Linked DNA regions of Homo sapiens. The protein of the gene in region 3 purifies or fractionates together with the protein of the main gene of each other region. This does not show direct contact. Each region holds a gene or a part of one and is shown on either strand. Other genes may lie near its edges. The genes, in order: NUP214, POM121, G3BP2 and IGF2BP3.

Region 1 (7,519 bases), on a different chromosome or scaffold from region 3:
CTGGTTGAACAAAGGTGGGAAGATTCTAGATGTAAAGCTGAACTTTTTAGTTTCTGTGAGAAAGCCCTGTAGAATCAGCTCAGTGCCTACCTACATGAAGACAAAGGAAAGACACAACAGAATCAAGTCACAGTTCACAATCAATATGCCATCCAAAGGCAGAATAATGTAGCTAGAGGGATGGAAGCTTTGCTTTGAGTAATCTCCATTCCAAAGGGCAACTCTGCTCTCAGGAAACTTTTAATATATTCCTTGAATATCAATATTTTCGTAAGTCATCACTAGGGGTTATTGAGAAAATTAGATTTTTGAAATTAGTATGTATTTAAGATAAATAATTCAAGATTGGGGAAACAGAAATAATAGAAAGACATTATCAAGAATCAGCTGAAAATATGTTCAAGGCATCTCAGCCTCCATTTTCCTCTGTAATGGAAAAGATTTCAGGCTGGGTGCGGTAGCTCACACCTGTAATCTCAGTACTTTGGGAAGCCAGTCTGAGCAACATAGCAAGATCCCATCTCTAAAAACAAAAAACAAAAACCAAAAAACTTATTTAAAAATAAGCCAGGTGTGGTGGCATGTGCTTGTAGTCCCATCTGGGAGGCTGAGGTGGAAGGATCACTTGAGCCTGGGAGTTCCAGGCTTCTGTGAGCTACAATCGTGCCACTGCACTCCAGCCTGGGTAATGGAGTGAGACCCTGCCAATCCATCAATCAATCAATCAGAAAAGATTTCAACATGGGACAAGGTGACTCAGGTGTGATCTTCCAGTGAGAGCAGGAATGCCCTGTCCAGACTCTCTGCTCACCATTCCTCAATGTAACTGAGGTAGTAATGATGCTGTCTCTCCGTGCAGCTGCCATAACAGGGCTCCATAAAGTTCACAAATATCTCTGGGTGCTTTTCTTCTTTTTTCTACAATGAACAAAGCAAGAAAAAAAATTCTCATGTGCAATTTTTCTCAGATCCCACAGCAAAAGAATCTCAAATAATAAATCATTTAAAGTTATATGAGAATATTTACTCAAAGTCCAGATATACGGACATGGTATAAAGGCAGCACTTAGTACAAGGAGTACAAACATTGGCCATCAACCGAACTGCATTTAAACTCTGTTCTGCCACTTTCTGCCCACGAGACATGCAGATTTTTCAACCTTCCTGATACTTAGTGTTCTCATGTGTATACTAGACCTACTAAGCCTACTTCAGAGGCTACTGTAAAGTGTAAAATGAAATGATACATACAAAACTTCCAGCCCAGTACATGAAACATAAGTAGCAGTTAATAAATACTAGTGTTAATATTATCCCCTAGAATAGAAAAAACCTCTAATCTTAAAATAAGGCATCTAGATAAACATATTTCAAAAACTCAACCTTATTAGAAATCCAAAAGAGTTAAAAACAAGACATCTTTTTCAAGTATCAAATTGGCCTCCCTTGACACACAATCTCAAACACATACCAGTCATCATCTATCCCTAACACGGCTTTATTTTCTCCATCACTCTTATCAGTCCTTGATCTCACATTTAGTATTGACTATCCCATTAAAATGTAAGACCAGCCAGGTGTGGTGGCTCAAACCTGTAATCCTAGTGCTCTGAGAGATGAGGCGGGAGAACTGCTTAAAGCCAGGAGTCCGAGACCAGCGTGGGCAACAAAGCAAGACCCTACCTCTGCGAAAAATTTAAAAACAGCTGGCTGTGTTGGTGCATGCCTGTGGTCCCAACTACTCGGGAGGCTGAGGCAGGAGGATGGCTTAAGCCCAAGAATTTGAGGCTGTAGTGAGCTGTGATCGCACCACTACATGCCAGCCTGGGCAACAGAGTGAGATTCTGTCTCTAAAAAATAAATAAAAATTAACAACAACAACAAACTTAAAACCATAAAAGCAAGCCCATCACCTTGATCACTGCTATATACTCAGCTTTAAAGCAGTGCCTAGCACACTGTTGGCATTAAATATTCGAGAGCAAATGAAATAATTTTAAAAATCAAGATACTGTCTTGCTTTTCTAAAATTTATCGAGTTAACCAAGACTCATAGTTTATAGCTTAAGCAAAATCATTTTTTTTTTAACCTCATAACAGTAGAACATGCTGTGGACACTCCAATTTTAGACCCCTGGCCCATGGTGCAGCATGGAAACCTTATACCTGAAGTTGCATAATCACTGCCAGTAAGTAAAAGAACCTGAAATCAGGCCAGGTGCGGTGACGCACACCTGTAATCCCAGCACTTTGAGAAGCCTAGGTGGGCAGATCACTTGAGCTCAGGAGTTCAAGACCAGCCTGGGCAACATGGTGAAACTCCATCTCTACCAAAAAAAAAAAATTAGCCAGGCATAGTGGTGTGCACCTGTAGTACCAGCTACTCAGAAGGCTAAGGTGGGAGGATCACTTGAGTCCAGGAGGTCCAGGCTTCAGTGAGGTGAGATCGCATCACTGCACTCTAGCCTGGGCGACAGAGTGAGATCTTGTCTCAAAAAAAAAAAAAAAAAACACAAACACAAAAAAACCCCTTGAAATCAAAGCCTCCAGCTTTATTAGAAGACTTCTCTAATTCTCAAACAATGAAATTTCTTCCACAGGCATACCGGTAGTAGAGCCATCACCACATCTGGAGACGTTTCCAGGGTCCCATCTGCAGCAGCATACACTATGGCGAAGACGTAGGTACCAATCCACAGCACATCCAGAACTGAAAGACACATCTTAATCAGTAGCTCATAAAAATGACAGCAACCAGATACAAGAAAAAGCAGCTTATGTTTGGAATAGCCACTATGGATAAAAAAAAAATCAAAGGCCCTGATTTCATTGACTAAATATAATGCACAGGTACAATGACCCAAGAAGCCCAAACTCATCCCCAAATGGTAATTTTTCTGCTGGATTATAATCAGGGCAAATTATGAAGAATTGTAATAAAAAGTCGGGATCCATTTCATGTCATTTATCGTGAAACACAGATGTCACCCAGAGGGCCATAATTTACACTGACTTAATTAGCTGTTTGAAATAGTGACATTATTCATAAAGCAAACACCAATACCTCACTGAGCAGGTACATTACATGATTTTGAATTTCTGTAATATACATAACATGTCATTAGAGGTCAGCCCAATAAGAAAAGCAGTTGTTACCTCTGACAGGATGATCTGACTCATAAAACGGAGGACAAGGAATGACTTTTTTTTCCTGCAAAGTCTGAAAGAGATTTGGAGGGGAAAATAAAGTATCAAATGAAACAAATCCTAAACCAATCAAACTGTCAAATCTAATCTATTCCTTAGATGCTACCTGTTCCATCTCCTTGGCCGGGAGAGACTGAAGAAACAGAATAGTGCTATCTACTTCCAGGACTTCATCCTACAGAAACCCATGAACGTGGCTGGGTGTGGTGACTCATGCCTGTAATCTCAACACTTTGGGAGGCCGAGGCAGGTGGATCACCTGAGGTCAGGAGTTCGAGACTAGCCTGGCCAACATGGCGAAACCCCGTCTCTACTAAAAATACATAGCTGGGTGTGGTGGCGGGTGCCGTAATCCCAGCTACTCGGGAGGCTGAGGCAGGAGAACTGCTTGAACCCAGGAGGCATAGGTTGCGGTGAGCTGAAATCACGTCATTGCACTCCAGCCTGGGTGACAAAAGCAAAACTTGGTCTCCAAAAAAAAAAAAAAAAGAAAGAAAAGAAAAGAAACGCATGAACGCATGAACATGTTCAGATATAGGTAATGAGAGTAGTCAATGCAACACCATTTGCAGCAGCAACGCCACTAGCACTGATGCAGACAATCATCAATAGTGGAATAAGGCTGGGCGAGGTGGCTCATGTCTGTAATCCCAGCACTTTGGAAGGCCAAGGTGGGCACACTGCTTGAGCCCAGGAGTTTGAGACCAGCCTGGGCAACATGGCAAAACCCTATCTCTACAAAAAATACAAAAATTAGCTGTGCATGGTGGCAAGTGCCTGTAGTCTCAGCTACCCGGGAGGCTGAAGTGGAAGGATCACCTGAGCCCAGGAGGCTGAGGCTGCAGTGAACCATTACGTTATCACACCATTGCACCCCAGCCTGGGCAACAGAGCAAGACCATCTCTCAAAAAAAAATAATAATAAATAAATAAAAAATTAAGGCAAACAGCAAAGCAAGAAAATTTAAAAAATTGCATTATCTTTTTACAGGTTAGTGTCCTAAAAGATTATGTACCAAATTTCAGGTAACTTTTGGTAATAACAAATAAGAAACATAACCTTAACCTTAAACCTATACCACCTACATTCACCACTCTGCTCCCCTCCTCGCCAGAGAACAGTCTTGAGGAGGAAGGCACAAGAAAGGCCTTAGCACCACCTGTGAATCCCTCCTTCGTGTCCAGGCTCAATAGACATATGGGGGTTCCTTGCAACTCAATTGATATTGAAGGATATTTGTGAACATTATTTCAAGAAATTCACAGGGAGGATGACAGAGTGCACATGCAACAAGAGTATCCATTTTCTTTGGTGCCCATAGTTAGACAAACAGACCTTTAAAGACAGACTCAGTTAAAAGACAAATACTGTGCTTTAACCCAGAGTGATTCTGCATTATCATCATAGTTTTTTCACTAACTCTTTTCCCTTGAGCTGTTTTTATGGAATGGACTGAAAAAGGTGGGGAACAGCGCATAGCGTATGATCACATTTTACATAAAAACAACAACAAAAAAAAAGCAGCTACCCATAGACTATTTGTATAACATCCAGAAAAGTATGGAAGGCTATCTACTCAACACAACATAGTGGGTGCCTCTGGAAGAAGGACTATGGGAAAGGGAAGAGTTCCACTCTTCATTCACTGATGGATTTGTTACAATGAGTATAAATTACTTTTTAATAGGAAAAACAAGAAAGATACTCCCAAACCACCCCCAAAAAAGTGGGCAACTTAAGAAAAATTCTGAAGTTCAAGATAAGAACTTACAGGAAGATACTGGACCACAGTTCCATTCTGTTTTCCCACTGCCAGCTGCTTTCCTTTGGGGCTCCAGCACACTGAGCAAAGACAGTATTACCAAATGAAAACAAGAAAATGGAGCAAACCAATAAGATCTATCACACACAGCTAATTATCAATTCTCATTCCTCTGTCAGTCCATGGAAGATTGTAGGATCATCTCTATCAGGCAAAGTGGAAAAAAGTAAAATCATTTTAACGATATAAGCCAATTGATTTATCACTGGGCTATTGAATTGAAAGCTAAAAATGCTTTTTCAATAGATTACTGCCCAGAAAGCTGCAAAATACAGAAAACTCTGTAGTCTTTACATAAGACAAGGAGAACAGAGAAGGTTTCCAAATACCAAGAAATCACTGGCCGGGCACAGTGGCTCATGCCTGTAATCCCAGCACTTTGGGAGGATGAGACGGACGGATCACTTGAGGTCAGAAGTTCAAGACCAGCCTGGCCAACATGGTGAAACCCCGTCTCTACTAAAATATACAAAAATTAGCTGGGCATGGTGGCAGGCACCTGTAATCCCAACTACTCTGGAGTCTGAGGCAAGAGAATTGCTTGAACCCAGCAGGTGGAGGTTGCAGTGAGCTGAGATCGCGCCACTGCACTCCAGCCTGGGCGACAGAGCAAGACTCTGTCTCAAAAAAAAAACAAAAAAAAAAAAACAAAACCAGAAATCATTCTCCTGCTCCCATTTAATATTTAAAATGCTTTTCCGCCCAAAGGTACAAATGACTTTCAGAGTACCACCGTTACAGATCCAGAAACAATTATTCCCAAAAAACACTTCTAAACCAGCTGTACCAAAATATTTCTCCAGAAATCCCAAGTACATTCAGGTTAAATTATGTATGCTGTTTGGCTTCAAGGACATTAACTATGGGTATAAAGAATACTCTCAGCCGGGCACAGTGCCTCACACCTGTAATCCTAGCATATGCGGGGTGGAGGAGGGCAGATCACTTGAGGTCAGGAGTTCAAGACCAGCCTGGCCAACATGGTGAAACCTTGTCTCTACAAAAAATACAAAAATTAGCTGGGCATGGTGGCGCATGTCTATAATCCCAGCTATTTGGGTGGCCGAGGCACGAGAATTGCTTGAACCCAGGAGGTGGAGGTTGCAGTGGCTGAGATGATGCCACTGTACTCCAGCCTGGGCGACACAGTGAGACTGTCTCAAAAAAGAATACCTTCCATCCTTAACCTCCCTCGTCATGAAAAAAAAAACCAAAACACAAAAAGCTATCCACTTTCACTTCTAGAAATCAATTCTTAAGTAGATGACCATGATTGTATGCTACAGTGTGAAAGCCTTTATTACTCACCAGAGGTTACTGCTACCGTGGAAGGAAGAGTTGCACATACTTTCACTGTTTCCGTGACTTGCAGGACAGCAATACTACCATCAGCCAGACAAACTGCCACCATGGAGGGGACAGTGGGGTTCCACTTCATATCAATCACCATGCCTCCTGCATCTTTCAAAAGCTTATGATAGGCAAATGGGCGTTTTTGCTGTTTAGCCTTTTAAAACAAATATGCAAAAGTGAAATAAGTTAACAAATAGTAAATGCAGAAACATTTAATATTCAATGGAAATTACTGAATACACAAGGTATCTCAAATCAGTTTATTTTTCTCCATAACCATAAAAAAAGATTGTTTTATGCATCAATCTATTTGCTATAGACAATTTCAACACAACTTTGAAAATGGCAATCAATTATTCTAACATGCTTAGGGGGACTCTCAGAAGGGGAATGCACAATTGCAAAATAACCAATAAATAGCAGACAATAGATTAAAATCTTGGCTCTGCTTCTTAATAATGTTGGGACCTTGGACAGTTACTTAAACTCTGAGCCTGTTTCTCTACCTATAAAATGAAGATAATAGTACCTACTACATAAGGCTGTGGTAGGCATGAACGAGGGACAAGGCATATAAAGCACTTAGTACAGAGTCTAACACACACAGTCAGTATAAACACTCACTATTATTATCATTCTTAAACTGCTTGGAATGGAAGAACATCCAAAATGTAGGAACTTTTGACATTATGTATTCATCTATGACTTTGGGCAAGTCACCTAAGCCTCCTGATAACAACTTAGGGCAGATGGCGTTATGAAAGAATTTCTTGAAGTCCCTTCTGTCTCAAAGATCTATGATTCTATAATTAAGGATTTTTTTTTAACCCATATTTTAATCTAGAGAGAAACTTCAAGGGTTAACCTATGAAGCTTCCAAGTTGTAATTCAATACAAGGAAATCTGCTTAGGGTTCTCATGTTGACATCACAGTATAACAGTAGCTTACCTCATTTGAGAATGTGCGAACATCAAAAAAAGCAATAATGGAACCATATTCACTGGACATCATGCACGCAGAGAGTGTGAGGTTATCACAGCTCAAGGCCAGGTGATGGATTGGGAATTTCATAGGAACTAGCAAGCCTTGGACTTTATCAACTATGAAAACAAAAAAATACAAAGCAGAAAACGGT
Region 2 (7,224 bases), on a different chromosome or scaffold from region 3:
GGCAGAGACGGCTACCAAACCCCAAGCCACATCTGCCCCGTCCCCCGCCCCCAAGCAAAGCTTCCTGTTTGGAACACAGAACACCTCACCTTCCAGCCCTGCCGCCCCTGCTGCATCTTCAGCACCTCCCATGTTCAAGCCCATTTTCACGGCTCCACCCAAGAGTGAGAAGGAAGGCCCCACACCGCCTGGCCCTTCAGTCACAGCCACAGCGCCCTCCAGCTCCTCCCTCCCCACGACCACCAGCACCACAGCCCCGACCTTCCAGCCTGTCTTTAGCAGCATGGGGCCACCTGCATCTGTGCCCTTGCCTGCTCCCTTCTTCAAGCAGACAACTACTCCCGCCACTGCTCCCACCACAACTGCCCCGCTCTTCACTGGCCTGGCCAGCGCCACCTCTGCTGTGGCTCCCATCACCTCTGCCAGTCCATCCACAGACTCTGCTTCGAAGCCTGCGTTTGGCTTTGGCATAAACAGTGTGAGCAGCAGCAGTGTGAGTACCACGACCAGCACCGCCACTGCCGCCTCACAGCCTTTCCTCTTCGGGGCGCCCCAGGCCTCTGCTGCCAGCTTCACCCCGGCCATGGGCTCCATATTCCAGTTTGGCAAACCTCCTGCCTTGCCCACAACCACCACAGTCACCACCTTCAGCCAGTCCCTGCACACTGCCGTGCCAACGGCCACCAGCAGCAGCGCTGCCGACTTTAGTGGTTTTGGCAGCACCCTCGCCACCTCCGCCCCGGCCACCAGCAGCCAGCCCACTCTGACGTTCAGTAACACGAGCACCCCCACGTTCAACATTCCCTTTGGCTCAAGCGCCAAGTCCCCGCTCCCATCATATCCGGGAGCCAACCCCCAGCCCGCATTTGGGGCCGCTGAGGGGCAGCCACCGGGGGCCGCCAAGCCGGCCCTTGCCCCCAGCTTTGGCAGCTCTTTCACTTTTGGAAACTCTGCAGCCCCGGCTGCTGCACCCACACCTGCACCTCCGTCCATGATCAAGGTCGTGCCTGCGTACGTGCCTACGCCCATCCATCCTATCTTTGGCGGTGCCACGCACTCGGCGTTTGGGTTGAAAGCCACGGCTTCGGCCTTCGGCGCTCCCGCCAGCTCACAGCCCGCCTTTGGCGGCTCCACTGCTGTCTTCTTCGGTGCAGCCACCAGCTCCGGCTTTGGAGCCACCACCCAGACCGCCAGCAGCGGGAGCAGCAGCTCGGTGTTTGGCAGCACAACACCATCACCCTTCACGTTTGGGGGTTCGGCAGCCCCCGCTGGCAGTGGGAGCTTTGGGATCAATGTGGCCACCCCAGGCTCCAGCACCACCACCGGAGCTTTCAGCTTTGGAGCAGGACAGAGTGGGAGCACAGCCACCTCCACCCCCTTCGCAGGGGGCTTAGGTCAGAACGCCCTGGGCACCACCGGCCAGAGCACACCGTTTGCCTTCAACGTGAGCAGCACAACTGAGAGCAAACCTGTGTTTGGAGGTAAGGAGGGGCGTGGACTTGGGCTACCGGGCCGGACACTGAAAAGCTGTGCCTGCGAAGCCTGTGGTCTCGGGGAGCTTATGCTGTGGCAGTGAAGAGACAGGCACTGAATATAGAACTCAGTGAGATGCCAGGGAACGATACATGTTTTGCTAACGTAGTAATGACTGGAGGAGCCATTGTGGATTTAACTGGTCAAAGGCCTTCTGAGTAGTTAACAATTGTAAGCTGAAGGTTGGGCGCAGTGGCTCACGCTTGTAATCCCAATATTTTGGGAGGCCAAGGAGGGTGCATCACTTGAGGCCAGGAGTTCAAGACTAGCCTGGACAACTTGGCGAAACCCTGTCTCTACTAAAAATACCAAAAAATTAGCCGGGCGTGGTGGTACCCACCTGTAATCCCAGCTACTCAGGAGGCTGAGGCACAAGAATGGTTTGAACCCAGGAGTTGGAGGTTGCAGTGAGCCAAGATCATGCCACTGTACTCCGGCCTGGGTGACAGAGCAAGACTCTGTCTCAAAAAACAAACCGTAAGCTGAATATGGGGGTGGGCACAGCACAAGTGGACATGCCTTTCAGGCCCAGGATGGCGCATGCAAAGGCCCAGAGGCAGAAACATGTTTGGTATGTTGAAGAGCAGAACAAAGACAAGCATGGCAGGAGGGCAGGAGCTAAAGCAGTGGTGTGGAAGGAGGCCAAGAGGCAAGGATTGTTTGTGGCCAGGGTTGGGTGTTTGGGTCTTAAGTGTTCAGGAAAACCATTGCAGAATCAGGCAGAAGGATGCAGTGATGGTTCCTCCCATGTGGAAGATGAATGTAGATCCCATGGCTTCTGTTTGCTTCGTGAAGTAGAGAAAATCTGGGAGAGAGAGGGTCAGGATAAAGTGTATAAAAAAAGGGGTCTTTTGAAATAGTCATTTTGGACAGTGGGGGAAAGGAACATCATATTAAAAAGTGTGATCAGTTTCCAGGCAGTTTGTGGGCTGGAAAATTGTGATTGTGAAGTTAAAGTGAGGCCAGTTAGCATGGCATGTGTTTCCCAGCGACACTGTGGGTGTAGACCTAAGGTCAGCGGACAGCTGGTGCCACCCGGCCATGGAGACCCCAGCAAGCACAGCAGGAGGGGCAGCGGGTCAGTGCCCCGATGCAGCTCAGGGGGTGCAGGAGTGGAGAGCGGGTGAAGTCAGCTGCAGGAGGGGTGGTGCCTACAGGAGATTCGGGAGCCGGAGCAGTTGTGGTGACAGTGTGGCTGCAGGAGTGGTGGCAGGGGTCGGGGAGAGGAGGTCATGGGGGTGGCAGGGTTGAGGGGCTGAGAGGACCATCAGTCAGCCTCACAGGGCGAAGTCACCGTGAGTGGTGATGGGAAGGAAGCCAGTGAGCCAAGGGTCCTCTGTGAATCAGGGAGTGACCTGGCAGTTGACAGGTGACATGAGGACATGGCAGATTAAAGTGATCTGAACTTGAGTTACGGTATTTAGGGAAGGAAGAGAAACAGTGTGGAAGCAGCGTGGGAGCACAGGGAGCTTCCTCTTGTCCGGGCCGGAGGCCAAGCCCTGAGAGCAGCCATCCCTGCAGAGGGGCTGCCAGAGAGGGCCTCGGGCAGGCAGCCAGAGCCAGTCAGGGCAAGGCCGGGGAAGGGAGGGGACCACGGGGCATCACAAAAGACGCGGGACGGACAAACCAGGCTTCAGAGGGGAGGGGACGGTGGCTGGGGGAAAAGGCCTGAACAGAGGAGGTAGCCAACCCAGGTACGCTAGGAGGCGGGGGCCCCAGAGTACTCCCCTCTGCAGCGATGGTCAGGAGGCCCACGAGGTGGCTGCGGGGCAGGGGGGCTTTTTCTCTGCCCTGGCGTGGCCATTAGCGGGTGGGAGAAGCAGGCTGAGCTGGGGCACCAGGCATGAAGACTCGGTTGTCTGGCTCAGCTGCTGATGGAGGAGTGCCCCAGAAGCAGAAGTGGGGCTGAGGGTCCCGTGGGAAGTGCCCTGCGGAGCACAGGCTCCTGCCCGGCTCCTCGCTTGCCTCTGCCCTCTGCTCACTGGCCAGCTCTCTGTTCTCTTCATTCCAGGCACCGCCACCCCCACCTTTGGTCTGAACACCCCTGCGCCTGGAGTGGGCACATCAGGCAGCAGCCTCTCCTTTGGGGCATCCTCAGCACCCGCCCAAGGCTTTGTTGGTGTTGCACCTTTCGGTAAGCAGCAAGCCACCCTGTGGCCCTGCTCATCTGTCTGAGGAGGGGTTGGGCGGGGTGGCAGGTTCCTGGTCCTCTGAGGCCCGGTGAAGATCAGGTTCAGCACAGGAAAGACATTTCGGGTTAGGAGTCCAGCACAACCCAGGGATGGGAGTTGGATGGCAGAGATCAGAGAGGAGCTGTCCGGGGTGGAAGTTTGCCTCCCATGGGAAGCCAGGTAAAAATGGATTCTTGGGCCTCGCTCTGAGACTCTCTGGGAGTTTGCATTTCAGGAGGCTTCTCCCGTACAGTGTTTCTGATGCAGCGGGGAAAGCCCTATTGAGGCACCCTGTGTTTTATTACTGGCCTGGCCTTCCAGAGATTTGGGCACCCAGAGTCAGAGTCTCAGGTAGCAGCTGCCCTGATGAGGTCTTGTTGAATCTTTCCAGGATCGGCGGCCCTTTCATTTTCCATTGGTGCGGGATCCAAGACCCCAGGGGCTCGACAGCGACTGCAGGCCCGAAGGCAGCACACCCGCAAAAAGTAGCCTTTGTCCCCTGTCCCTGTTCCCCCCACCCCTTCCCTAAATCTGGACCTTGGCACCTGCTAGGAAGAGCCTTGGACCCTTCCAGTTGCGTAAAGCAAACCTACCCCGGATCTCTGGCTTCAGCCGCCAGGGGGCAGTGGCAGCCCTGGGGCCCTTTCCCTTCTGGAGGAAGCACAAGCCTCAGGGAAGGGGAAGCAGGATGCGGAGGGCCAAAGCCCGGGACCTCTACTTGAACAGTTCTACTGGGGAGGCTGGAGAACTAAGGAAACACCTGTACATAGTGTCCGCTGCCCTGACTCCCGCTTAGCACACCCTTAGGCAGGCGCCCCTTCCACCTTTCCCCGAGACCGTCGTCGCTGGAGGGGGCAGGGTCCAGCCCGCCTGGATCGGTGGTGTGCACCTGATGGGATTTGGGAAATGGGCTATCCGTAAAGCTTTATCTTGCTTGGCTTAGCTGTGAGAAGTGGTTCTCTTCCTCTGGTCCCTTCTGGGGACTCTGTTTCCCCATTTCTTGCTGCTGTGTCCCTCACCAGTTCCTTGCAGGATTCCTTCGTTTTTAAATGCCCTTGAATCTAGCTTTGCCTTGGAGACCCCAGTGGGTGCTGCTCCTGCCGTTTTCTTCCTGCCAAGCCTGAATCAATGTTTCATCTCCAACCCTCTGCCAGTTTGGCCCCTCAGAGCTTGGTGGCTCAAGACTGTTAGCCTGGCAGAGCCAGGGGTGAAGGGAGAAGCTCTTGGAGCAGGCAGGATGCCCACCGCTGCTTCAGCTGCCTCCTCGCCCAGCTACCCTTTGGCCCCATTGGGCCCTCGTCTGCCTCTCCAGGATTGTATGTTTCAAGCCTTGTCCTGTGTTCCTTTGTCTGATGCTCTGTGTATTGCTCTTTGAATCGAGTTTGGAGGAAGAGTTGAGTTGTATGAGTGGCGGCATGTTGGTAGTGCCGGACTTCCTGTTTCAAGTTTTCTGGGGCCTCGCTAATTGAATGTGGAAAGTAGCACCACTTGACGGCTACAAGTGCCGACTCCTGAATTTTCCCATGGTGTTCTGACTTCAAGGGCTGGCAGCCAGGGAGAATGGGCCCAGGGGAAGCAAAGACCTCTTCCCTCTGCCGTTTCTGTCCCACTTAACTGACCTCACTGGAGGCTACATCACCCAAAGTAGATGTTAGAAAACCTAAATTAATGAACCATATTTTTAAAATCCTATTTTTCCCAAACAGGGCCCTCTGCAGCCCATCCTTTCCTTCCGTCCTTCTGAAACCACATACCCCAGGCCCAAGCGCCTTGCTGCCACGCCCAACCTCTTTGGGAGAAGTATGAATGCGTGTGTCTAAATTAAAAGAAAAAAATATTTAAACGTTTTTTAACAAAAATTTATTTTTGTATTTAAGCTAAATTGCCTTTTAAATTCCTTCAAGCTTGGTTCATTGAGGTGGTTAAGTATAAATGCTATTAACTAGGAATTAGCTGTATAGTTAAGTTATGCCTGTGCAAAGAAGAGGCTCAAATGCTGTCCCCGGCAGCTTTCCTGGGGGACTAGAGCTCCTTCTGGCCATGTTATATGAAATGTAATTCTTATTTTATAAATAATGTGATGTAAATGTAACTGGTGCCCCCTCCCCGATGTGACTGAGGGTGAGTGAGTGGTGGCGGGGCTGCTCCTTCCCACCCCTCAGAACAGCTCTGATCCTCGTTAATACCTGGCTGCGTGTGCAGCTGAGGAGGGAGTGAACCTCAAGCCTAAATACCTGTTAGGATTGGAGGGTCTGGGTGGGCCTGGGCCTAGCAATCAAGCTTCTACCTGTACCTTATGTAAGGTAGACCCTCCTAGTGTCAGTACCTGAGCTAGTTTACCTCAGTTCCGCAGGCAGGACAGCCGGTCCGGGAACCCTGAGTGAGAATGAGTGTGGATGTGTACAGTACACGCACTGGACGGCAGCGGGAGGCTGGGACTTTCCATTACAAATAGAGACTTCATTCCTGTTGAGTCTAGTTGGAATTTTTAGTATGAATGTGAGATTTTTCTCCTGCTTGTGACATTAAGAATAAAAAACTGTGATCTATCGTAGAGTACGTTCTGCATTTTATTTCTGCAGGCAACACTTTTGCTCACCAGCAAGAACACAGCCCGAGGAAGGGACCCAATAACCTTTCAAAACGCAAACTGCTGCCTGCGGTGAGGGCCCAGGGTCTTCCACGGAGAGGACAGGCATCTTCCTTTCCCACCAGGAAGGAGTGAGCCCGGAGCCTCTGCTATGTGCAAGGCGGTGTGCAAGCACCGGCTGCAGCTTTTTGCTCTCTTCTTTCTCTTTGGGGCTGGGCTGGGTGTGCGTTCTGGTGCTGATGCTTTGGCCTGTGAGGCTGAGCTAGAGAAATGTAGATGTTAGATGTGCCAGTACCATCCTGCGCCTCCCAAGCATGCCCCCACTCACTCACGTCGGCATCTCGACCCGTTCAATTACAGCAACGAAGAAGCCACCGCTAAGCGTGGTCTTGGGGGAAGCCCGGAGGCAGTGCTCGGCACCCGGGAACGTGCTCAGGCCTCGGTGGGGCCGGGCAGGCAGGGCGGGAGCTAGCCTGCAAGAGAAACAGCCCCAATGCTGGGTAAGAGAGCAGTTCACCCCATCCCCCCCTCCACGACCCTGGCGCACGCCCTGTACCTGAAGGCGCCCGGGTTCTGCTGCAGCGCATCTTGTACCATGTCTTCATTCTCCTCCTGGCAGAGGGAGCACATGGAGTAGACGAGCCGCTGCAGGGAAGGGAAAGTGAGCGCGTGGCACAGGGCTCGCTGCTGGAACCCTGCCAGGGCATGCAGACGCACCGGGCTAGGTGTCCCTGCCCCGGGCTCCTCCAGCTGTCTGCTCGGCATACCTAAGGAAAAGCGTGTCTCGGTTACACAGCTTCACAGGCTGCCTCAGTCCTGAAATCCTCGCTCCTGAAATCCTCGCTTCACAGAGGAGAACTTTTGCTCCAGGGTCCCAAGCCCATTAAAGTGTCAGAACTAAGACCAAAACAGATGACTCCAGGTCTAAGC
Region 3 (8,247 bases):
CACACACACACAAGCTAGGCACGGTAGTGCACACCTGTGGTCCCAGCTACTCAGGAGGCTGAGAAGTCGAGGCTGCAATGAGCTATGATCGCACCATTGCACTCCAGCCAGGTGACAGACAAAGCAAGAACCTGTCTCAAACAACAACAACAACAACAACAACAAAACCACCCTTCAACTGGGTAACTTATAAACAACAGAAACTTATTGCTTATAGTTCTAAAGGCTGAGTAGTTCAAGATCAAAGGGCCAACCCTAGTGAGGGCTTGCTCTGCTTCAAAGATGGTGCCTTCTTGCTGTGTTCTCACATGGTGAAAGGGGCAAAAGCACAAAAGAGACTAATGAACTCCCTCAATCCCCTTTTATGAGCACACGAATTCCATTCATGAAGGTGAGGCCCTCATGACCTAGTTGCCGCCTGAAGGTCCCACCCACCTTTTAATACTTTTGCATTGGAGATTAAGTTTCAACATGAATTTTGGAGGGGCACATACATTCAATCCACAGCATCATCCTTCCTAACTGAATTAGTAGTGGGGCCAAGACATTTGTTTTGCAAGCCTTAAAAGTTTAAAAACATGGTGAGTAAAGACACTTTCCAAGAAAAATGCGTTTCCCTTAAGGACTTGGATTTTACTCCCTTCCAATGCTTGGTCTTCATAAACCTTATTTATGTGGGGTGTGTGACCCCTAAACATGCATGTAGTCATCTCTTTTTTTTTTTATTTTTTATTTTTTGAGACAGAGTCTCGCTCTGTTGCCCAGGCTGGAGTGAAGTGGTGCGATCTCGGGTTACCACAACCTCCGCCTCCTGGGTTCAAGTGATTCTCCTGCCTCAGCCTCCCCAGTAGCTGGGACTACAGGTGCGCACCACCATGCCTGGCTAATTTTTGTATTTTTAGTAGAGACGGGGTTTCACTATGTTGGCCAGGCTGGTCTCGAACTCCTGACCTCGTGATCCACCCACCTGGGCCTCCCAAAGTGTTGGGGTTACAGGCGTGAACCACTGCGCCCAGCCGCATGTAGTCATCTCGTATACACCTACTTCATCAGCAAAAGTGGTGATAATGGACTTGGTTGATCTTTTAGTATTCAGTAAAGTTGAGAATGGTCAAATGAAAGGGTGTAGAGGAAAAGCTTTATAAATTCAAATGTCTTATCTTATTCAAATACTTATCTAAGTATTTTATGCTGAAGTTTATAATAAAAATCAGGAATCAGGTAATATAATTCTAGTAATTTTACTTTTAAAAATTTACCTGCTAATGGTGATTGGGTCTGATTCATTTACTTTTATTTTTCACAGTGTTTTGATAAAGGTTCACATTAAAGGCCTTGGGGTGGTAATGTGATGAGAATGTCAAAGGAAGAGCTGGCTGGGGTGGTGTGAGAAAACCAGTGGTAAGAAAAGAAATGGAAGTAATAGGTAAGGACTAGATCAGGTAGGCCTTGTAGGCCATGGTAAGGACCTGAGATTTTGTGTTGCCTTTTAAAGGTTTTGGGACCATCTCAATTATAACTATGAAAGATCTGGCTGCTGTGAGGGGAACAGACTGTAGTGGAATAAGAGTGGAAGCATTGAGGCCAAGTAGAAAGCTATTGCAATAGGCAATGGTGGCCTGGACTACTATAGCAGCAGTAACAGTGATGCAAAGTATTTAATCCAGAATAAATGTTGAAGGTAGAGGGAACAGAAATGTATTGACAATTCGGCGAAGTGGGTGGATCACTTGAGGTCAGGAGTTCGAGATCAACCTGGCCAACATGGTGAAACCTCGTCTCTACTAAAAATAGAAAAATTAGATGGGCGTGGTGGCACATGCCTGTAGTCCTAGCCACTTGGGAGGCCAAGGCAGGAGAATGGCTTGAACCTGGGAGGTGGAGGTTGCAGTCAGCCCAGATCATGCCATTGCACTCCAGCCTGGATGACAGAGCGAGACTCCATCTCAAAAAAAAAAAAAAAAAAAAAAAATTATTGGCAATTGGCTGTCAATAAATTGGTGTGAGAAAAAGAGGTTTTTGGCCTGAGCCACCGAATGAATACCGTTCACACTGGTCTCCCTGCCTAGTCTATAGGAGGTGGACATTGCTTCATGGAGGCTATGTTTGAGAGGCAGGGAGATTAGTTAGGAGGCCACTGCAGTCTTCCTGGGAAGATGAAGGGGCCTGAACCTGGGCAGGGGCTATTTGTGTAGAGATATGTTTATGAGGTAAAAATCGCCAGTTAGAATAGGTTAGAGATATTTACTTAACATTGAAGATCGCTGAATCTTTTTTCCCATTAACTCCACTTATTGGTGTCTACTCAAGAGCAGGGTTACCTGAGGGCTGTTTCTGTGTAGCTCTAGAGCTAAACTAAAAATGTTTCTTAAATTTTTAAAGGATGCGAGAGAGAGAGGAATATGCAACAGAAACCATACGTGGCGCTCAAAACCAAAAATATTTACTATCTAATCCTTCCCTTATCAAACCGTTTGCCCACCTCTGCCCTAGATCAGTGGTGTTTGTTTTTTTTGAGACGGAGTTTTCACTGTTGTCACCCAGGCTGGAGTGCAATAGCGCGATCTCAGCTCACCGCAACCTCCGCCTCCCAGGTTCAAGCGATTCTCCTGCCTCAGCCTCCCGAGTAGCTGGGATTACAGGCATGCGCCACCACGCCCGGCTAATTTTGTATTTTTAGTAGAGACGAGGTTTCTCCATGTTGGTCAGGCTGGTCTCAAACTCCTGACCTCAGGTGATCCGCCCCCCTCGGCCTTCCAAAGTGCTGGGATTACAGTCGTGAGCTGCCGCGCCCGGCCTATATCAGTGGTTTTTAAAGTGTGGCTCCTAGAGCAGCAGTAGCACCATCAGCTGAGAACTTGTTAGAAGTGCAAATTCTCGGGCCTCTGTTGAATCAGAAACTTAGGGAGTGGGGCCCAACTATCTGTTTTAACAAGCCCTACAGGTGATTTCGGTGCACATTAAGGTCTGAGAACCACTGCTCTAGAGAAAGTTCTGCACCTCTGCAGGATACATGGTGAAGAATATTTATAATAGCATTGCACGGAAGAGCTCCAAACCGGAAACACTTGAAGGTTAGTCAGCAGTAGGGCAGATAAGTGAATTGCGGCAATTAGTACAATGGGAGTATTCTATAGTTTGCCTGAGGGTATGGACTGTGGAGGCAGATTGCCTGTGTTTGAATCCCAGCTCCAGTGAATAGTAGCAGTGTAGTCCTGGGTAAGTTACTTGACCTCTCCAAGCCTGTTTTCTCATCTATAAAATGGGCATAAAAATAGCAACTACTGGCCGGGTGCGGTGGCTCACGCCTGTAATCCCAACACTTTAGGAGGCCAAGGCGGGCGGATCACGAGGTCAGGTGTGTTCGAGACCAGCCTGGCCAACATAGTGAAACCTCGTCTCTACTAAAAATATAAAAATTAGTTGGGTGTGGTGGCATGCGCCTGTAGTCCCAGCTACTAGGGAGCCTGAGGCAGGAGAACCGCTTGAACCCGGGAGGCGGAGGTTGCAGTGAGCCAAGACCGTGCCATTGCACTCCAGCCTGGGCGACACAGAGAGACTCCATCTTAAAAAAAAAAAAAAAAAAAAAATATATATATATATATATATATATGTACATACATATAGCAACTAGCTCATAGGGTTACTGTGAGGCTCAGAAGGCTGTATAATTACAAGAATGCCTGGTATATAAGCCCAGTATATTAAAGGACAGCCGGCATGTAATGTATTTTGATGCTTTAAGGAAAAACATCAGGTTGATTTCATTAAAGTGATGGTCTGCCCAAATATTTTGCATATAACAGTATCTTTAAGCAGTCTAAAGGTAAAGATATTGTAGACTTTGGAGGCCCTAATGTTGGCATTGCCTCTGCCAATATTTAAGGTATTTGACGTATTGTCTTAACATGCCAAATACCTTAAAATTGCCCTTACAGGATTGCGAAGAAAACTGATGAGATGTACATGCTTGCGTCCACCATGTTTAGTTCGTAAGCATTCATTAATGTATTTTTTCCTTTCCGTTTCTTTGAACACTTCCTCAGTCCTTCATTCCAAAATTCCTGTGCTATCTCGGTATTCTCTGAAAACACTGCCAGACCTAAGATGCAAAGTGGCTTCCTTGACTACAAGATTTGGCTTGGCTTTGTCCATGAAACAAGGTCACCAGTGTCTCACCCTGGGGGCAAGTCTGGGCTTAGAGCTAGAACAGGACTGTAATCCTTGTATTTCAGGCCTTCTTTTAGCTTTAGTATGTAAAATGCTTTAGTATCTACTGATATTTAGCCATGCCTAAATTCGTAACAAGGACACAAAGAAATAGTCTTTTCCCCCTCTGTAAAGCCCACGTCATGTTCTTCCTTTACTGCAGGGCCTCTTAATGGGGCTTAAAACCTAGGATGGGTTAAGTAAACAATGTAGGTGAGTTTAGTGTGCAAACAGCTGAAATCACCGGCTGCATTTTAAGCTCGTCTACAGCAGCAACCTGCAGACACCTATTCAGAGAGATTACTAAATTCCCTCCTTCCCATTAATAAAAAGGACCAGAATATCAGTCTACAAAAGACACTGCGTTGCTGCGAACCAGCTCTCGCTTGCGCGATCAGGAAGAAGGGCGGCAAGGCTGGAGCCTCGGGACCGGAGAAAGGCAGCCTGCTTGTGACGTCAAATCAGCGGACTCTTATCTTGGCTTTAGGCCGGTTCCGGTTCCCCGGCTTTCCGGGCGCGAGCGTGTGCGAGCGCGGCAGCGTACTGCGCGTGCTCCGCAGAGGGACACGGGAAGGTTGGGTCCGGCTCTGGAGGAGATGCGTGATTGGCTGACGCTGTGCTCGGGGGTTCCCTGGCCCTTTCGGCAGGGGTAAAACAATAAGAGGGGGCGGTGGCAAAGGGGGCGGGACGTCCGTGGTCCTTGTCGCACGTCGCAGCGCCTGGCGCCCGGGAAGAGGTGGTTGTGAGGCAGACGAACTCGCGGCTCTCCGGCTTCCGAGGCTTCCGAGTTGTCGGAGGAAGGGGGCGGCGAGCAATAAGAACCCGCCGCACCCGGTCCTCAGCGACTCTTCTGACCTCCGCGCGACGTACCCGCCGCCGCCGTTGGCTGGAGGTGTGTACGGGCGCCGGGAGGGGAGGTCGGTGTGGTGGTCGGAAAGGGACATTCCATTCGCGCTCCGCGGCGCGAGGCAATCGTCCGGTGTGTGAGCCCGGGAGCCGGAGGTGTAGCGGCAGAGACATTGTTCTTGCCGGCTCCCTACGGTGCCGTGTGTGCGTGAGAGAAGACCAGTCTTTCCTCTAGGTGAGGGGTGGGAGGCCGCCTGGGAAGGGAGGTGACCCGCGAGCGTCTTGCGGGCAGAGGGCTCCGAGTGCACAGGTGGGGTTGAGGTTTATTGGGGATGAGGTGGCGAAGTGGGGGGGGAGGCACGCAGCAGCTCCCGAAGGCGCGCTGATGGAAGCTTAATACAGGAAGTGTGGGAGCAGGCTTTCTGGAGGGGATGTTTTAGGGTGGGTAGCCCACCGTTCCTGTTTCCGAATCGTTTTCGGCTCTTGTACCTTGTTCCTTCGGAGCGGAGAGGCCGTCGCCACCCCGCCCGTGGGGGGAGGGGAAAAGAGGTTGTGTCGACGGAGGCAGAAGCGACGCAGATGCGAAAGTGGCGGCCTCCGGGCACCATTTCTGTGCACGGAAACAGAATCCGGGTTTGAAGGCAGCCGCCGCTTCGCTTACCCAGTACCTAGTGTTCCGTCGTGTTTGACCAACCCCCCTCTCCCTGCCACCGCGGGTTTAATCCGAACGTGTTCGGATACTGGAACTGTAACGTGCGCCTTCTTCGTCCCCCTCTTATGCAGACGATCCCTTATTGACTCGGGAATGGCTTTTGGGGGATGGGTTCCCGCTTTTGTTGGGATGGGGGGACAGAAAGGAACAGAAGCTTCCCTAGATTGTGTTGATTTTGTTAGTGGAATCTGATAGAATTTTTCCTGCGTCTCTAAAAGCAGATTTCTTAAGATGGCCCTTTGCCGCTTTGGGGCGAATATAGATTTTCGTCTATAATTTCCTGCATAGATCAGCTTTTTTCCCCAAGACATACTTAATGTTCTAACGGATTTGGGGGGTGGGAGGAGAGTGCCTTTTCCTTCATAACAACAACAAAAAAAAGGCACTTGCACTTTTAGCTGGAATAGTAAAGTCCTGTTCTCCCTGTATGATTGTTGTGGGATATTAACTTGGATTAAGATACTGTGGTTTTAGGTTCAAGGCTCTGTACCTTGTTCTGGTCTTTCAAACGTTAGTGTTGCAGGTACCTGGATCTAGGAAACATTAACTGTCGTTAAGAGAGCCCCGGTGTACTAGAGTGGGAGATGATGGCAATTTTTCTCTAGCTCCATATTTGGCAGTTAATATAGCCTTAGGCATGTGAACCAAGTTTCTAAGTAAACTTTTGGCCCTGTTAGCATCCAGTGGTCTTTTTGATAATCCAAGATTCCTGGTCTTAGGAGATAAACGGTACGATGAGTTTGAACCTCAGGATTGAATTATCCTTTCTTTGGCAGTAACATTTTTCTTAAATGTTTAAGATTACTCTTATGGGCCTTTATGTTATGATTTAATCTTTACAAACTAATTCTGAAAAGCAGTCAAGGAATTGTAGGAATAATAAGGACCTAGAATGAATTTCTTACTAAGAGCTGTCATAGTTCAGATTGATATTCAGGGTCGAAATATTAGTAATAGTGAAAAAACATCAAGAGTGAACCAGAATGCTTGTGGGATGGATGGGGATAAAAATTAGAAGGTAAAGAAGAAAACACATTATTTGACCATTTCGTAGAGTAACTAACTTAACTGTTCAGTTAGCAGCTGAGCAGTTGATTTGTCAGCAGGCAACTCCTGGTTTGAAGAAAGTGTTGGCACTGTGTCTTTAGATTCTGAAAACTTCCCTCCTTATCCTGCAAAATTATCGCTGTTTATTACGCATAATTAGGATTGAACATTTTCCCCCTAGATTGCTTTAAAAAGACTTTCCACATATTTTGAGTGAATATGGAGACAGTGAATGACTCCTTTTCAATGTTGATTTTGAAAGGCACAAACTAAAGTGTTGCGTCTGAACTTAAATTCAGTAGAATTTAATGGACAAACATGACCTAGTTACTCTCCACTGGTAGACACTTGTTTTATATCCGATAGAATAAATTGGTCCACCCACCTTCAGGAAGGTCCTGGCCTACCTTCAGAAGCAATAGAATTAGTTTCTTGACTGTCGTGTTTCTGCTTACTTTTATCTGCTAATTTCCAAGTATTTTACCCTATCTTGAAACCATAGGTATATTGAAAATTATTCTTGGATTTTCTGTTGCTGTCCTGCTGTATTCCTTTGCTTTTCACTCTTCTCAACAGTTTCACATAAGCTAACAATTGCTTGTTTAAAATTAATTTTTTGTATTGTTGGAAGAGCTGGCTGCTCTTCCAAAGCGGTTGTTCCTAACCAAAGTGTAATGAAAACATCAGTTGAGTCAGGAGTCAGGAGACCTGATTTCAAATCCTCTTTCTTTTTACTGTAACTGAGGAACCCCAAACACCTTTCCTTAGGCTCTCTAAACATCCTTTTCTGTAAATGAAGATAATGCCCTATCTATTTTAAAGACAAAAGAAAATAGTAGGTTACTTGTTAAACTTTAAAACATAGTATAAATACATGCTTTATTTTTGTGGACAGCAAGCATTTCCATTTCTTACTGCTTGGTCACTTTTAATAGCTTCTGAATTTTAAAACTAGCCTCCCTCAACTTCTGAGAAGGACAGAAAACAAAAACACCTTTTGGAGCCTGAATAAGAGATTTAATCCATAACTTACTTTTATTATTTATTTGTACCACTATGATTCTTAGATCTTCTTTGTGAAGCTTTCATTCAATGGTGTACCACAAAAGATTGAAGGTCATTTCTTTAAAAAGGTATAGTGTTCCTTAGATTGTTTAAGTTACTTCAAACAAAAACCATCTGGAATTTCAGAAAGTTCCAGTATTAATATGCATTTAGCTGTTGGAAATGGATATAGTCCATGGTTCAATTAAAATAAATAAACCTGACTAGTTTGAGCCCAGCTATGAGTGAGGGACTCCAGAGGGGAAAGGGGTAAGTATCCTATAGTGGAGATAAGCTGTGTCTTAGCACCCACATAACCTTTGGTAACAGTATCTGGTAAAGAGAACTGCCTCCTATTACTAGAGGTCTTATTCTTTTTATAATAACTA
Region 4 (7,878 bases), on a different chromosome or scaffold from region 3:
CAGGCAGAAACCCTAACCCCACCATGCAAAATCCAGAAAGGCTTAGAGGCCCACCCCGGTGCGACTGGGAGGGAGCAGTGCCTTTCCAATTGCAGTTAGAGCCGGAATCTATGGTGTGAGTTGGCTGAAGGTTTTAAAAAACAAAACAAAACAAAAAAATAGAGCCGGAATCCGGCCTGCTCTAGCGAAAGGAAAGGAGTCTCCACTGCTCCATAAGGCTTCATAAGAAAAAGAAAAAGGGAAAGAGCCATGTCTCCAAAATGCTTCAGAGGCTAAAACAGTCTATAAACATTCTGTAAAGCGACATACTACACACATGATCTCGGAGACGAGAAATCCCCGTCCTTAAGTAGTACGAATCTTCCTGTCTTCATCTTTTGGTGGTTGTAAGCAAAAATGTACCCAGGAGGAGTGGGGTGGAAAGCGGGGAGACAAAGGTGCTGACTGCAGGAACCTGTAGAACTTCGGAGTGACTCAAAGGCACTTCTGGGCCAGAGAGGCCCCAGCGTTTACGCACGCGTTCCAATACCCCTGGCGAGCTCACAGGGCAGAGGCAAATTCCTCTCCACTCGGCCGCGCCCACGGCCTCCCAACCCCGGACAGAGAAGGAAAGGAGGGACCCCCGCGTGTCCGCAGCTGCTTTCGCCTCTCCTGCTCCTGGAGGGGTGGGGGAATCATCCGCTGCTTCCCAAGCCCTGCAAACCCCCCAAACTGCTTGTTGGGACCCATTTCCCGTAGGAGCAATTTGACCCGCTCGGACCGAGGACATTCAGCTGTGAGCTTTCGAGAGATTTTGTAACCAATAACCATAATCCCGCGGCAGAGGCCACAGAAAAGCTTTCAATTCCTGCCCAGCATCATCAACACACACACCCCCGCCATAAACTTAAAAGCAAGGATTAAAGACCGGAACACCACGCCACACGGCAGGGGGTAAGCACCAGAGGACAAGAAGTTCTCAGCTGAGTCTCTCCACCCAATAACGGAGTGAGAACAGAATCGGGGCAAACAGAAGCAGCAGCTCACCTTTGCCTTTTTGGGACCGAGTGCTCAACTTCTATGGGTTTCCCGTGCAGTTCTATTTTACCTGCGGACACACAAGAAGTGAGACGGTCGGCCGAGTTCAGCGGCTCTCCCTGCCCGAAGACCCGCACAGCCCAAGCGGCGACACAAATGGCCTCCTGAGGCCCTCGAAGGGCCCCCGAGGCCCGGACGCGGCTCCAGGCGGAGGGAGAAGCCGACCCCCTCGAGCGGCGTGGGCATTTAACTCGCAGATGGTTGGGGAGCAGGGTCCGCTGGCGGGCCCACTACTTGGGTATCAGTCCAGTCTCCAAGCCTCCCCCACCCACCCCTGGGGGCCACCAACACCACGAGGCCCGCAAGAGGGACGCGGCCCACCCTCTCACCGCCCTGGACACGCTCCACAGGGCAGACTCGGGGCAGGGGGCTCCCCTGGCTTTCTTCAGGAGGGGGCGCCCTGGCCCTGCCCTCTGCTTCAGCCCAGACCCGCCGGGAACACTCAGCGGTGGGCTTGAGGAAGACAGGGAGTGGCGAGAAAGGGTCGGGGACGGCAGGGGAGACCACGAACGGGAGAACTGGCAGAGGCGCAGCTCGGCACAGGCTGAACCAGGCGCGAAGGACGGCGAGGCGCCCGCACCACGTCTGAATTGATTAAAAGGGAAGCCGAAAGGCACGGGGCTCCCATGGGGACCCCAACGCAGCCTTCCCCCTGGGCGTCCTGCTCCGCCCGGCACCGTCCCTCGCCCTGGCGGAGCCATACCCGGAGGCCGCAGCCCCGCGCCAGGGCCCGGAGAGCGGCGGGCGGCCGGTGCGTGGCGGCGACTCCCTTCCAGGCGACCAGCCGCCCCCGCCCACCTGCCCCTATCGCTCGTCGGACCAGGGGAGGTGGAACGGGGAAACCGGGCACACACTCTCTCCTCCCACAGGGTGGGGAGGAAGCGCGGGGCCGCCTGTGCGAGGCACCAGCCTCGCGGTCTCACTCGGCAGCACGGTCGAGGCCACTTTCCGTTCTCCACGGCCGGGGGTTTCGGGGCGCAGCACAGACAGCGCCGTAAATAACGACCGAGGAAAGCAGGAAGGAACGAGGCACAGGCGGGCATTCTAGCTCGGCCCCCGAGGCCCAGCGTGCCGGGGCCTGGAGCACGCGCCTGGGCCCGGGCGGGGCGCCGGGGGAGCGCGCCTCCCCCAGCCCCGCGCCCCCCTTAGCCAGCGCCGGGGCTTTCTTGACAGCGCGTTCGCCCTCACCCAGCAAACCCCGGCCGGGGAAGCAGAGCCGCGGGCCGGAGTGGGAGCCGGAGCTGAGGAGAGCCCCGGCCCCCACGCGCGTGGGTGTGGGCGCTCAGGCCTCACCCCCGCTCCCCCAGCGCGCCGGGCCTGGGGCCCGCGGAGCCACCCGGTGGGCCTGGGCGGGCGGTGCAGGGCTGGGGCGAGAGCCCGGGTGGGGCCAGGCCCGGGCCCACCTGAAAGCGCCTCGATGGCCTTGAGGGCCCAGCTCTCGTCCGGGCAGTCCACGAACGCGTAGCCAGTCTTCACCAGGAAGGGTCCCGACACCGGGATCTTGGCGTCCTTGAAGATACTTTCTAGGTCCGAGGGGGCGGCGTTCTCGCTGAGGTTTCCGATATACAGTTTGTTCATTGTGAAGAGTGGTTGTTTAAAAAAAAATAACGAGAAAAAACGAAAAATTAAAACCACCCACGGTGATGGATGGATCCAGCTGGTTTTGTTCCCCTCGTCTTCTCGCCTTTAAAATACACAAACACAGTAAGAACCAAGCACAAGAACGAGGAGTGAAAAATCAGATCCGAGGCTTGTTTTTTCCTTGTCTAGATGTGTTTTAAAAGAGAAAGAAAAGAAAAAGCCTAGCTACAACCCAAACGCATCCACCAGTCTTCCTAAGTCTTAGGAGGAGGCGGGATTAGCAAGAGAAAGGAGGAGGAGGAGGGGAAAAAACTACTTTTTGTCTCTTCCTTCCCAACCCCTTTGGCTTCGGCCAGCGGACTGTGAAAATATCACACTACGTGAGGCAGGCGCCGCCTCCCCATAAAAAACCCAGAAGGGTGACTGGCAGGAGGGAGGGGAGAGGAGGAGGAGGAGGAGGGAGGAAGGCGCAGGAGGCGGAAAAAATCCGCTCCGAGTGTCCGGCTTTTTGAATGAGCCACGTGTTCAAACTACAAATCAACGTCTCACGTGAGGAATCCCAGAGCCTCAATTAGAGTGGGTTTCGGAGAAAAAAGCGAGCGAGAGGAAGAGGGGGAGGGGAAACGAGATTGGGAGAGGGACTCTGAGAAGGGGGAGGAGGAAGAAGGAAAATGCTAAAGGAACCGCAGCCGGCACCAAGCGGGGCGCTGACGGTCACAACTCGAGTTTGTAAAGGGTTATCTGGTCTGGGCGGATCCTGGGAGGGAGGGCTGGAATATTGATTTTTTTTTTTTTAATGAGGAAATGGGCAGAGGTACTAACAGGCAGTTCCTCAGCGCTAGTTACCGTAGTTTTAATCATTCGATTTTTCAAAATAGGTTATTAACAACAAAACCAGAGTCACAATCCCGAACTCGCCTGGTGGCTTTAATGGCATTAGAAGTGTAACCCCAGCAAAGCCGCAGGCACGTTTCTAAGGCTGGCATGGACGGAAATGCTGCGAGGAGGGGTGGGGGAGTGGGTGAGGGGGGCAGGGGGTGGGGGCAAGACAGGCGGGCGACGCGCCCCACCCCGTGCGCCCTTCTCGGGCCCTGGGCACCGCGCGAGTGGGGGCGGCCCGGCCCCGGAGTGGTGGGGGATGGGATCCCGCAGCGTCCTGGGCGGGTGTCTGGGCGACACCTCCTCCGCCTCCGCCTGCGCTCGCGGTGGCTCTCGGCTTCGCGTTTGCCATTGGTTGCGCGATTCAGAAAAGGCTCCAGGATAAATGAGGCCGGGGGCGGGCTTGGCCACTGGTGGGGGAGGGGAGTGCAGGGGCGGAGGTTTCTGGCTAGGGGCTGGGGTCGTCGGGGGCCTGGGCCGCTGGAGGAGAGAAGTCAAAGTGGGAAAAGTCGGTAAAGGGAAACCCTCTCTTCCTGTAGTTTTTAAAGGGGGAGGAGTGGAGTAGGCTGGTACTTTTATTTAAGTAATTTTAGTTGGAGAACTTGAGACTTAAAACTGGAAGACCGTCGTGCATTACCCCTAGGTGGTATTCGCATTTGAAAAATTGTTCGAGTCTCTTTCTGCCTCTTTTCTGCCTGGATTTGGCCATGAGAGCCATACATAATTTTCTCTATATGTAATGAGTACAATGGTGGTTGTCGGGGGAGGATTTGGGCCCGGTGGAGCCTTGTGGGCCAACAAAATGTGAACTGGAGACGAGCAATACGGAAACGAAGGCAGTGCTGGGGTTCTAGTGGAATCTCCAACTGTCGTTTAAAGATTGTGTACTCCACTCAAAGGTTTCATTTGCACCAGATACTTGTGTGTTTTTAACAGGTATATTTTTAACAGGTATTCTATTGAAAAGATAGAAAATTCTAATTTTTTAAGTGAAAGAAATTCTATATAACATGAAAATATAGACAAGAATCTTTAATGACTTGGTACTCTTACTGGTAGAAAAAAGGTATCCTGAATAGAGGAAATATTATGATTTACACTGGAAACATCTTCGGTAATTGATACAGCCTTGCTTCTCTGTCAAAACCGTTGTTAGCATTTTAAAATGTGTATTTTTCATTTAAAAGATGAATGGTAGACTTAAACATGGGAATTGTTGCATGATATAAAGAGTATTTACATTTTGTCTTTTAAAGGGAACTTACTTTGTAATTTTGTGTTAAGGAACCGGAAGGTGTCAGATCATCCATTTTAAATGCAACTGTTCTTTCTTACAGGTTTTTCTTTCCTGCCAAGCGAATCCAACATTTTAAACGTAAACACACTTTCACAATAATTTCATTCACGTTTAATTTAATAAAATGTTGTTACTTTATAAAATAGGGGGACAGACGTGTTTTTCTGTTACAGTATTTGTAACTGAATTAAGAGCTCAGCCTTGAAAGAACGTTTTGGTAAAATTTTTCTTTAAGTTTATGGTTAGGTTGAACTTTTTAAAAGCATTTTTTTCTTTTTTTAAAAATAACTTTAGTTCTAAAGAAGAAATGTATTCTTTCTTTTGGCCTCTGTGGTATGCAAAATGTAAATATCAAAAATTATGGATTTATTTTAAATGTACCTGTTGTAGAACAAAAGCCATTTGGAGAAATGTTCTACATTCATTCATTTGGTAATATTTGCACTTCTCAATACCACTGTAAATTTTACAACCTGTTGATCATTTAACACTTTTAGTAATTTTTCATAAAAACAAATTGTGTGTGTTCAGCTTGCTTCCAAAATCAATTCAACTATGGCTTCTGGGTTGACTGTATTTGCTCTTATTAAAACTGAGACCTAAGGAAATATCTACTTCTAAAGCATGGAATAAATTGTTTATTTTCCATAAATACTAGTCCATGCTTGTCTGGCACTATCAAACAAATCTAACAGCTGGAATTTAAAACAAGTGTGTGTTTTGATGAAATATGTTCCTGGGACTCCTGTTAACCTAATCTGTGTATTATTGTAACAAACTGGATAGTCCATCTAGGACCTTAAAAACATACATGAGTAATACAAGCTCAGACATCAAAGAGAGAGGTGGATACAGTCCACTCCACTTCCAGTCTTCCAAGCATTTAAGGGTTGAGTCAAAAGATCTTAGGTAGTTGTCTTGCACTAGCACTTCAAGTACAAAGATACCTTTGGTGAATTTTCAAGAATGAATATAAAATCAATTTAAGTTCCAGTTTTTTTTTTTTAATGACTCTCACACAAATCAACTGGTTATAGGCTACTTCAGCTTCTTCCTGAAGCAGTTGTAGCTCCTAATTAATGTGAACTCCACGAAGAAAGAACTCCCACCATTTTATGTGCTCTGGGATGCGGCTGAGTCTTTCCAATTGCAGTCTGTTTACTCTTTGGACAGCTGCATCTCCTCCTTATCTGCTGAACTGAGGACTGTACAAATGTTTCTTGTGGGTCAGTGTAATATTAAAGAATAGCTATGTTTAGAAGGCCAGTTACCGTTGCTGTACCCACACGTCAGGGGCAAAGGCTGAGTGGGCAGATGGGGGGCTGCCACCCCTCCTCACGCCCGGCTTGGGACCAGCCTGGAGTCTCAAGCCGAAACCCCTCACGCGGGTGGGCACACAATGCCCGGCGTGTCGCCTGGGCCTCCTCGGAGGTGCTTTAACAGGCTCTTGCGCTTTTGAACGGCCCTCCTGGACTCTGATCTGTTTAAACTAGAGGCGTTAATAAGTGATAACCTGGATCTGCCCTCCTTGGAAGCTGCCTGCCTATATTTTATTGTTTAAAATAAATAAAAATGGTGCCCCGGGAGAGAAGATGGGGTTGTTTCCTTTTTCCTCTGGCTCTGCCCCGAGAAAGAGGGCGGGATCCTCACGGCTCACAGTGGGGAGGGTCTTTCGTCGGCCGCCGGCTCGCCTCGGAGGGCCTGGACCACTGGACCGCCCTTCCCCGGGGCCCTGCCGCGGGACCGCGGGCTTCTGGCTCCTCCTGGGGCTGCGTCCGTATGCGCGGAGCGTGTGGCCGGGCCGTCGCCGCGCCACCCCACCTGAGTCCGCCGGCCAGCGCGGGGACGCACCGGGCAGCGTGTGTTTGGCGACCCTCCCGCACCTCTGGTCTCAGTTGCGTGTGTGCACGAGGGGTTCCATAGGGCCCAGGGATGCTTGGTACCCACGGGGGAGAATCCCTCGCCGAACCCTGCGGGTCTGCGGGGCGGGCCGCGAGACTGGCGCGCAAAAGCGGCTCCAAGGCGGGGCTCCCGCGCTCCCCGGGGCCGGCTTGCCGAGTCCAAGTTGAGCAACCGGCGTCGAGAGAGACACCGCCCCTGCTGCGGGCGGGGGCCTCTCCTCGCTTCCGATTGGCTGACGGGGGGAACCTATCGCCGTCGGCCGCCTCCGCCAGAGCGGTTTGCTGGTTTTCATTCATTGGCCCCGGAGCCGCCCCTGGATTTCCATCTTTTGTGGCGCGAAAATAACCCTTTGCTCCCTCGTTGGTTTTGTTGAGGTTGAGGGGTGGGACTGTGTTCCCCTCTGCTCGCTCTCGTTTTTCCTGCCCTTTAACAGCTCGCCCCCAGCCCCAACCCCCAAGGAAGAAAGAGGGAGGTAACGCTGAGGAAGGGTGGAAAGCAGTTCTGCGTCCGTGGGTGGAGCCCGCCCCTTGGCTGACCGCATGGTGCCCGCACGGTCCCTTCCCTTCCCCCAGCGTCCAGCGCCCGGAGGTTCTGGATTTGCGCCATGCTCAGCAGCTGGAGTCACATCTTCGTTTCCCTGCCCATTTCCAACATCTTAGAGTTGATGCGTCCTTTTTTACTTAAAACAACTACAACCAACCATGTTCTCAGGTACCAGAACTTTTCTGGGCTTCTAGAGAAATCGACTCGCCCTGCCCGCTCCCTTCCTAAACCCCTTTGTGGTCCACAGGGTTGTTTTAAGCAAAATCAAACAACCCCTCCAAAAAAAGCAAACGAAAAATTCCGGGTAAAATCAACTATGCTGAGACCACGTTTTCGTTGAAGCTGCCCTAAGACCAATGAAGCTGAGACCGACCTTCAAGGATTAACGATTTCTGTAGCTGAAATGTTCTAATTTCACTGACGTTTGGTGGAGACGGTGAGAAAAAATAAATATGAATTTGACTTGGAAAAGCACAAAACAAACGAAATAATAATATTTAATTTGATTAACTGAGAAGGCAAACAGCCACAGTGGTGTATTCTAGGTACTGGTGTCTTTGGTGAGTTTGTAATTATATAAATAAATTGCTGTTGGTTTC

What was found.
Region 1: the proteins of G3BP2 (region 3) and NUP214 purify together in Homo sapiens (affinity purification with mass spectrometry; 4 studies listed by BioGRID and IntAct, with this or other methods). This does not show direct contact.
Region 2: the proteins of G3BP2 (region 3) and POM121 purify together in Homo sapiens (affinity purification with mass spectrometry; 3 studies listed by BioGRID and IntAct, with this or other methods). This does not show direct contact.
Region 4: the proteins of G3BP2 (region 3) and IGF2BP3 purify together in Homo sapiens (affinity purification with mass spectrometry; 3 studies listed by BioGRID and IntAct, with this or other methods). This does not show direct contact.

Annotation. Positions count from the first base shown.
Region 1 is NC_000009.12:131,128,297-131,135,815, reverse strand, and holds part of NUP214 (nuclear pore complex protein Nup214), read right to left. Parts: intron 7,485-7,519; coding exon 7,333-7,484; intron 6,538-7,332; coding exon 6,339-6,537; intron 5,051-6,338; coding exon 4,980-5,050; intron 3,221-4,979; coding exon 3,157-3,220; intron 2,711-3,156; coding exon 2,607-2,710; intron 919-2,606; coding exon 812-918; intron 1-811. UniProt on the Homo sapiens protein: Part of the nuclear pore complex. Has a critical role in nucleocytoplasmic transport.
Region 2 is NC_000007.14:72,942,042-72,949,265, forward strand, and holds the end of POM121 (nuclear envelope pore membrane protein POM 121), read left to right. Parts: coding exon 1-1,481; intron 1,482-3,544; coding exon 3,545-3,667; intron 3,668-4,095; coding exon 4,096-4,193; 3' UTR 4,194-6,258; downstream 6,259-7,224. UniProt on the Homo sapiens protein: Essential component of the nuclear pore complex (NPC). The repeat-containing domain may be involved in anchoring components of the pore complex to the pore membrane. When overexpressed in cells induces the formation of cytoplasmic annulate lamellae (AL).
Region 3 is NC_000004.12:75,670,062-75,678,308, reverse strand, and holds the start of G3BP2 (ras GTPase-activating protein-binding protein 2), read left to right. Parts: upstream 1-4,897; 5' UTR 4,898-5,101; intron 5,102-5,151; exon of another isoform or gene 5,152-5,290; intron 5,291-5,414; exon of another isoform or gene 5,415-5,496; intron 5,497-5,607; exon of another isoform or gene 5,608-5,803; intron 5,804-8,247.
Region 4 is NC_000007.14:23,467,456-23,475,333, forward strand, and holds the start of IGF2BP3 (insulin-like growth factor 2 mRNA-binding protein 3), read right to left. Parts: upstream 3,037-7,878; 5' UTR 2,656-3,036; coding exon 2,481-2,655; intron 2,193-2,480; exon of another isoform or gene 2,121-2,192; coding exon of another isoform or gene 1,781-2,120; intron 1,088-1,780; coding exon 1,027-1,087; intron 1-1,026. UniProt on the Homo sapiens protein: RNA-binding factor that may recruit target transcripts to cytoplasmic protein-RNA complexes (mRNPs). This transcript 'caging' into mRNPs allows mRNA transport and transient storage.